Regions from separate parts of the Homo sapiens genome. Here region 1 is linked to region 2. Evidence: fine-mapped expression QTL. A gene starts in region 2. The other region holds a variant in brackets. All regions are shown on one strand. Distances are from middle to middle. Region 1 overlaps GRIA1 (glutamate ionotropic receptor AMPA type subunit 1). Region 2 holds the start of GRIA1 (glutamate ionotropic receptor AMPA type subunit 1).

What was found. PIP is the estimated chance that this variant, and not a neighbour inherited with it, causes the effect. A credible set is the group of variants that fine-mapping cannot tell apart.
Region 1: its variant is the best candidate, but not a certain one, in a credible set for the expression of GRIA1 in atrial appendage (GTEx, PIP 0.64).

Annotation. Positions count from the first base shown.
Region 1 is chr5:153,518,988-153,522,987 of GRCh38, forward strand. The region is part of intron 2 of GRIA1 (glutamate ionotropic receptor AMPA type subunit 1); the gene reads left to right. Among named protein-coding and RNA genes, the nearest start is that of GRIA1, 30 kb to the left of the region's middle. The variant G/A (reference allele first, on the strand shown) is at 1,917.
Region 2 is chr5:153,487,966-153,492,393 of GRCh38, forward strand. GRIA1 (glutamate ionotropic receptor AMPA type subunit 1) reads left to right here and starts at 2,705. Exons shown (of 16, transcript NM_000827.4): 1 at 2,705-3,005. The coding sequence starts at 2,924.

The DNA.
Region 1 (4,000 bases), 31 kb after region 2:
GGCACGGTGGCTTACGCCTGTAATCCCAGCACTTTGGGAGGCCGAGGTGGGCAGATCACAAGGTCAGGAGATCGAGACCATCCTGGCTAACACCGTGAAACCCCGTCTCTACCAAAAATACAAAAAATTAGCCGGGCATGATGGCACGCACCTGTAGTCCAGCTCCTCAGGAGGCTGAGGCAGGAGAATCGCTGGAATCGGGAGGTGGCAGCTGCAGTGAGCCAAGATCACGCCACTGCACTCCAGCCTGGACGACAGAGCGAGACTCCATCTCAAAAAAAAAGGAAAGAAAAGAAATGCCAATTCGAGGGTCTCAGGCCGGACCTCCTGAATCAGAAACTTTGGAGTTGGGGCTCAGCACTCTGTTTTAACAGGCCCCGCAGATGATTCTGAAGATGCTCACCAAAGTTTGACAACCACTACCTATTGAATGACTTAATTTTATGGGATACTAGATCAGACTAGATCAGAGTCTGAAGTTTTTCTGTAACTCAGTTCTCATCTTAACGCTGTGAGTGTAGATTGCTCTCAATCCACGGCTGAAGAAGCCAGATTGTGACTGAATAAAGCCAGTTACCCTGCCTGACCCTGGCTCCAGGACCTGCAGCATGTAAAACATCATCCAGGAGTGCAGCCCCTGTGAAGACAGCTGACCTGAAGGGCATGGAGTCTGTGACCCCATCCACCTTGAGAAGCATGCTTCAACCAGCAAAGGAAAGACAGTCCTAGACAAGGAAACATCATCAAGTCTCTCTGTAGGAATACTTCATATCAGACCATATTGCCATGTGTTGAAGATTATTATATAATGATAATAATTAGTACAATAGTAATACCATACATTTTGATTACATTTTTGACATTTTCAAGGCATGTTTATATTCTAATAATCTATTTTCCCTCTTGATAATTTTATTTTCTCCCTTAAAAATCTCTCCAGTTACACAAAGTAGAGTAGGAGTGAAAGGATTGTTAATCTGTTAATCTGCCTGTCCAGGGGAGAGGCAAAGTAAAGAGATGTATCTGTGATTTCATGGCCTGTTAGGTTCGTAGTAACAATAGCTAATGTGTGTTAGGGAGCTTAAGTGGGCCAGGCTCTTTGCTAGATATGTCAGTGCTTATTAATTTAATAAAACCTCTAGACCCAAGGCTTCCAGACTCCCAACTGGTCTCCTTCAGCAAGCAGCGTTTCTTTTCTTTCACCTCACTCTGAATTCTTCAGACTCTCTAGTCATTCATTTATTTTATTCATTCAACTTTTATTTAGCTTATACATCCTACAGAGAAGGTGAAGGGCACAGAGGTGAATGTGCTGGCCCACAAATTGCTAGCTCTCTCAGGGGAATCCAGAACAATGCAGTGCCACCCACAGTGGAGCCTTGAAGGACAAAGGCAAATTATTTACCAAATCAAAAGTTGCCAGATTCAAGATTCTCTGCAGTTCTTTGAGGTTTGAGCTTGGTGCATAAGAAGAAAGGGGGATTTTGTTCTAATGAAAGACAGGACACAAGGGCCTACCTACAAAAATTGCTGCAATAAATGAGGACATCATTAAAATTGTCTTTGTGGGGGCCCATGGATATGGAAGTGAGTAGGGAAGATGTATACAAGCAATGGAAGGAATAAAAGACAGAAGACTTCCTAGATCTAGTGCTAGAGGCTCCATAGTTCTGTTCCTTACAAATGCTGTAACTTTGGGCCAGCCTCCCAACCTATTCAACCTTCTGCTTCCTTCTCCATGAAATAAGAACCTGGATTTCTTACTCACCTGATTCACAGGGAACCTCTGAAAATCAAACGTAAGAATTAGTAATAGTAATAATAACAATATAAATAGCTAACATCTATTGAGCAATTATATTTCTTACTTTCACTGGCTTATTTCATTTAATCATGAAAGCATTTCCATGAAGCAG[G/A]TAATGTTTTAGGCCCCAGTTTATAGATTATAAAAACAGAGGTTTAGTAAATTACTAAGTTCACCCACCCTTAACAAGCAGTGGAACAAGGATTTGAATTCAGATCTGTCTGATCTTTGAACCTATTACTATTAAATCACTACCCCAGAATTCAAAAACAAATGAGGAAAACTCTGCGAGTCATGCTGATGAAATGAGCGGAATCAAAAGAGGGAACAAAAGGGAGGGCCTGGGGTCAGAGGCTGTTAGCTTGGCATGAAGGATGGAAAGCATTTCCAGATACCATGTCCTGAGTGAGCACAATGCTTAGGCTATGCAGCAGACCCTGGACAGTGGACCAAGGTTTAAGAGTCAGTGTGAACTTTCAGGAAGAAGAGTTTATGCAGAGTAACACATGCCATAAACAGAAGAAAGTATCAGGGACCAGAGAAACAGAGTAAGAGGCAGAGCTGGAGTCAGGCAGCTGCAGATTCCAATGGCCTCTGACTTTCTGCTGTAGCTGCAAAGGTACATTTTATTTAACTCCATGCCCAGCCCTGTGGCAGTCTGGGAGCCCTTTGACAGAACTACAGCTTCCACATCTGGCTCAGTGGGGAAGGAGAAATAGATCTTCCCGGGCAAAAAGAAGCAGCTCAGTCTTGCTGCCTTCCCTTGAGTCTGGACAGAACCATCCTCGGTGGTGAGCTTCCCAGAGCCTTTTGGGAGTGGCTCAGGGGACCAATTTGCTTCCTTGAAGAATTTTGAATAGCTTCAGATGTAGCTCTGGTGGTTGAAGCTAAGGACAATAATGAAAATAATATGATAGCTGACATTCATTGAACTCTAATCAGGGGCTTGTTTTAAGGCATATTTTAGGCTCTATGCACTGTTGTGTGTCTTGCTGCTCTCATTACACCAAAGATATTATAGCACACCCACATCTCACATTGAATCTGATTTATGTGTGAGTTGAGTGGCATTGCTGCACACTAGTTGGTGCAATGACATGTTTTATAGATATTTAAATATTTATTAATTTGATTTTACAGTTTGCTTTTAATATTTCAGAGTCAATATATTTATTTTTCTGGTCAGACATACTTTTTAGGCCCACCCTTCAAAAGACTGTAGGACCCAGACACTGAGTTTTCTCATGCCACCTGGAGAAAGTGATCCTGTAATTATTGTGTTGGGAGCTGAGTGCTCCCACACATTGCCTGTGGATAAGTGTAAGACTCTGGAATTAAACTGCCTTAGGTTTGAATCCTGAACCCACTACTTTCTAGCTGTGTAATCTTTGGCAAGTGCCATATCCTATTTGTGCCTCAGTTTTCTCATTTGCAAGATGGTTATTGTAAGGACTGAATCAGAGAACACATAAACAGTTTAAAATACTACCTGTAACCTGTATCATGGCATGTAAAGTTGTTATTATTGATATTTAAAATGTCCCAGTGAGGTAGCCACTATAGTTATTCCCATTTTGAAAATGAAGTCAATTTGATGAATGGTGGAGAGGGACATTGAACTCAGGTGGTCTGACCGTAGAGCTCATATTCATAATGAGTAAGAGTTTGTATCAGTCAAGTTAGGCCAGGTTATACCACAGTAACAAATGACCCCCAAACTTCCATGGGCTAATATAACATGAGTTTATTTCTTGGTCATGCTGCAAGTCCAACACAAAATGGTGGGGGAGTGGGGAGAGGCATTGCTCCTCATGCTTCCTTAGGGACCCAAGCTGAAAGAGGGACCATCCTAACATGATCACAGTGTCAAAGGAACTTATGTAATAAGCCACACCCTGGCTCTAAAGCCTTATTCCCAAGGTCACGGACATCATTTCCACACACAGTTCATTGGATCAAGCAAGTTGATGGCCAGGCTTAACTTTAAAGGAGGTAGAAAAGTGAAATCTTACCATGTAACTGCAAAATTGGGAATAGCTAAATGTTATCTCAGAGGAAGGTTTTGAGGATCAAATTAATTAATCTATGAAATTATCAAAAATAGGGCCTAGAACATAGAAAAATCTTCTTTAATGTTAGGTATGAATTCTTATTAATTAATGAATTGCCTCTTGTAGCAGCTCTCCTGTATAAATA
Region 2 (4,428 bases):
CCCAGTCCTCAGTTACTGCCTATAATCTCCTCATCCTTCACGGCTCAGTTCTTTTGAAGCCTTGCTGGATCCCCACAGACAGACACACTGATTGCATCCTTCTTTGCTCCCCCGCTGCTGTGTTTACATCTTTTAGAGCACTTGTCATGGTCTTTCTGGGTGACAGTTGTCCGGGTTCGTCTGTCTTCTTCTTCTGCCACATTCACCTGCCTTGAGGCAGAGACTGTGTCTGATTCCTCTTCATATTGCCCAGCACCTGGCACCCTGTGAGATACAGAATAGGTTCCCCACCAACATTTGAAATGAAGAGAATTATAAAGAAACATGGAATAAACATTGAACCTAATGTAGTTTGACCTAGATGCCTACACTTGAAATATGTAAGTTCTATATTTAATCAGTGAACAACTATGTATTTAATAGACCAAGGGGAGCTATTGACCATACTTGAGCAGGGCAATGACGTAGACCTCTGTTTTAGGAAGATCTGCTTGACTATATGATTTATAATGACCATGGAAAATTCATCTTTTTGACTCCCTTAAAAGTCCCCTCCCTACAAAGTATGCAAAACAAATCTTACCTAATGCAGGGGGACATTGAGGTTTTGCTTGTAAAGGGTCTAAAGAGCTTCCTCTAAAAGGTGATTGCAAGGTGTGAAGCCTTTAATGACAGCCTAATTATTATTATTACCAGGCACAAAGCTTAGGGAACCTAAAAGATCCCCAGGTACTATTCAAAGTAGTAAGATACAAAAACTGAAAATGGAGAAATTAAAAGATGGAATCATTAAATCAGAGACTCTTAATGTTGGCAGAGACCTTAGAAGTGATCTTTCCTGATTCTGTTCTCTCATCTTCCTATGCTGATGCTTATTCTTCCTTTAGAAGGTTCCTACCCAGTGCTTGCTGTTATTAGAGCCTAAGAGTTAAGAGCTGGGGCCTGATGGTGGCATTTACTGTGTTTAAATGCCCAATCTCTTTCATTAGCAGTGAAAACTTGGGGTGAGTTTTTAGACCTCTGTTTCTTCATCTATAAAATGGGCATGAGGCTACCTACACAGGTATTGTACAAATAAATGATGCAGGTGCATTTCTTAGCATGGTACCTGGCACATTCAAAATAGTGAATAAACATTAGCCTTAAAAATTATTTTAGCTAATTAATTAATATATGTGAAAGTGCATAGGAAATCACAAAGCATTTGACCTCCAAGTTGTTCCTATTTTGGGGCTTCATTGTACATGGTCAGATATTTTTTACAAATCCCAGTCCTTGTAGCTGTCACTCAAGTCCACATGATATACAGTCCTGGTGAGGGAAGTGAAGAGTCTGTGGATAAAATGGCCTATTCATATGGCAAAGCAAAATGGAGTCCAAAGTCTATTATTTCTTTCTTACTAAAGACAAAGTTGACTTTCCTTTTCCTGGATCATCTCCTGTTGGACAGGAGTCCTGGCCAGGGCAGTAAGTCAACTGGTAACGGCCAAAGCACTCAAGTTTGTAGGTTGTACTGTACATCTTAGTAGGTCTGTGTCTTTATGACTTAATCCCAGAAGTCTTATCTTTTTCATCTGTAAAACAGGGCTCATGGCCACTTTACAGGTTTGGAGTGAAGATAGATGGATAAAAATCTGTAAAGTTCCTTCAAAAACTGTATTCTGTGGCGGCTAGTGGCTGCTGCTTTGCATTTAACACTACTATCCTGAACACAGCTGATCTCTCTACAGGTTATTTCAGCAGAAGCCCTGGTCTAGGAGAGTCTATGAAGTTCCAGCTTACACCAGACATGACCAGCATCCAGAAAGACCTGAAAGAAGCTTGAATCCTCTCACTAGAATCCCTGCAAAATGACTCATGTAATTGCTCTGTGTAAGTATCCTTAGTCTTTATTGTACACCCACACGATTCTGATGCTATAGACTCCTGTGGAATGCAGGGAAAGAGAGAAGGGGGCCCATTTTAAATGCCTAGGATTGAAAAGAGACCACCGTTTCACTTGTAAAGGTAGACAGGGACTGTCAAATACCTGGTCAAAATACCTGCCAGTCACTCCAGATCCTCCCTTGTTTGTCTATCTGTCATTCCTTCCATTAGGAGAGAGAAAGCTTTTTTTTTTTTTTCCTTTAAATTTCCTAGGAGGGATTTCTAGGGTCTTTCCCTCAGGAATTAGTTGTAGGAATAATTGGGCCAGTGGAGTGCAGGAGATATATCCAGCGCAGCCCATGCACTCCTAGAAAAAGTGACCTAGATCAAGCAGCTGGTGGATTGAGGACTATTGTGGGGACCCCCTGCCACCTACTGACTTACAGCTGAACCCACATTCCCAGCAGCTTCAGCCTGGGGGCTGGGGGAGCGGGCAGACCGAGCTCAGAAAGGCAGGGGAGGGTAAAGAGGACTGTGGGGTTGCCCCTTTCAGGACCAAGTGCCACGTGTCACACACCCCCACCTCCACCTTTCTGCACACACAGAAAGGAGGATAAGGTGAGGATGGGAGGAAGGGGGAACAGGTAGGGAGGTCGGCTGTGGAACTCCAAGCTAGCTCGGTGGGTATTAGCATAGAGCTTGCTGCCTGTGTGAGTGTGAGGGGGAGAGCGAGAGAGAGCAAGGGAGGGAGAGAGAGGCAGGCTGCGAGGGGAGAGGAGAGGGAGTGGGGGAGCCAGCGCTCCAGCTAGCATGAGGACGGGCTTCTTTTCCCGTGCTCAGTTAATCTGGCTGTCAGTTGGTGTTAACGCTGCAGTTTAAGTGTTCGGATTCCAAGGGAAACAGACAAACCTCACGAAAGGAAGGAAGCAAGCAAGCAAGGAAGGAACTGCAGGAGGAAAAGAACAGGCAGAACAGCGAGAAGAATAAAGGGAAAGGGGGGGAAACACCAAATCTATGATTGGACCTGGGCTTCTTTTTCGCCAATGCAAAAAGGAATATGCAGCACATTTTTGCCTTCTTCTGCACCGGTTTCCTAGGCGCGGTAGTAGGTGCCAATTTCCCCAACAATATCCAGATCGGTGAGTGAGGGGGCAGCCTGGGGAGGGACTTTCTGGGTCTGGCCAGGGATTTTTTTGGGGATAGGGGTTGTGTACCCCCTCCCCGGTACTGACTGTTTTGCTTGGCTCCCTAAAGCTGTGCTGCGGTAACAGAAGGGAGACTTGGGCTTACAGCCAGAGGAGGGGGCTTCTCCTGATCGGATGAGGGGCAGAGGGGAAGTGTTCACACACGCACACATACCCTACTCGCACTCCAGGCAAGAGCATGTGAAATGGAGGAACCATCGCTTTGGAGGAAAAAAAAAATCAGGCTGGAAAGGGTGGTGGGTGTTTAAGGAGTTAACTCTATTGCTTGGTAGATGGTGCTTGATTCCATTTTTAATGTAAGTATGTATGGTGTGTGTGTTTTCACGTGTGTGATTATATATTACATATGCACATATATATGTAATTGAAGGAGGCAGTGCTTTCTCTGCTGGGGGACAGAAAAGAGACCCTCGAGAAGAAGGAGTGAGGGGTGCTGGGTATATTGCAGCCACTGAAATAATGCCAGAAGGCCCCCACTCCAAGGCGGGTAGGCTCCCTCTCCTGTTCTGGACTCCTCCAGCTGCCTTCTCTTTGCTGTCTGCCATGCTGCGCTGGTGGTCTCCACTCCCCCGATCCTGGAACTTCCTCGCCTGCCTTTTCTCCGTTCCTTCCTTGCCCCCTCCTCTTAGATTTCCTATCCACAGAGGTCTACCTTTTACACACACAAACACACACACGTACACATGCTCCTTTCTCCTCCTGTTGGCTCTCCATTATCCTTGTTACTGGGCTCCATCCTCTCAACTTGGAGGCAGGTTTCAACATGCTGCATGCTTTTTTTGTTCCCCATTTCCCCTTCTTAGTTGTTACACTTCTCAAAGGCCCCGCCACCCTCCCTGTATTTCTGAGGGGACTGACAGATATTGCTACTCCTGATAATCATGAGGGAAAGCAAAACAAACAGAAGCAATAACACCAATCACAAAGCATGTCCACAAGGGCTTGGGGCTTCCGTGTGACCAGCATGTCAGTGTCGTTTGTGTCCCGGAATGAAGCAAGCTGCTGTGTTTGGAAGCATCTTCGTTGGTTTGGTTTCTAGTCTCTCTCCCCTGGTAGGGAGATAGCTCCACTAGGGAAAGTTCGCATTGCTGGGAGTTTGTGCTCTTTTGTGAGTGTGTGTTTGAGGGGGGATGTGGTGCAATTGATATTTTGTCGGGCATACATGTGCTGCAGTACCCATCTCTTTCAGCCTCTCCAGCTAGCTGGCGGCTTGGAGTGGCCATGGAGTAACTTGCTTTGTTTCCTGACACCTGTTAAGCTACATCCTGAAGTGTGTACGTATCTGTGTGTTAGTGCCTAACACGCAAAACTTCCTGCCTTCAGGGGAGACACTTCCCTTGTAGCCCAGCCCGTAGCC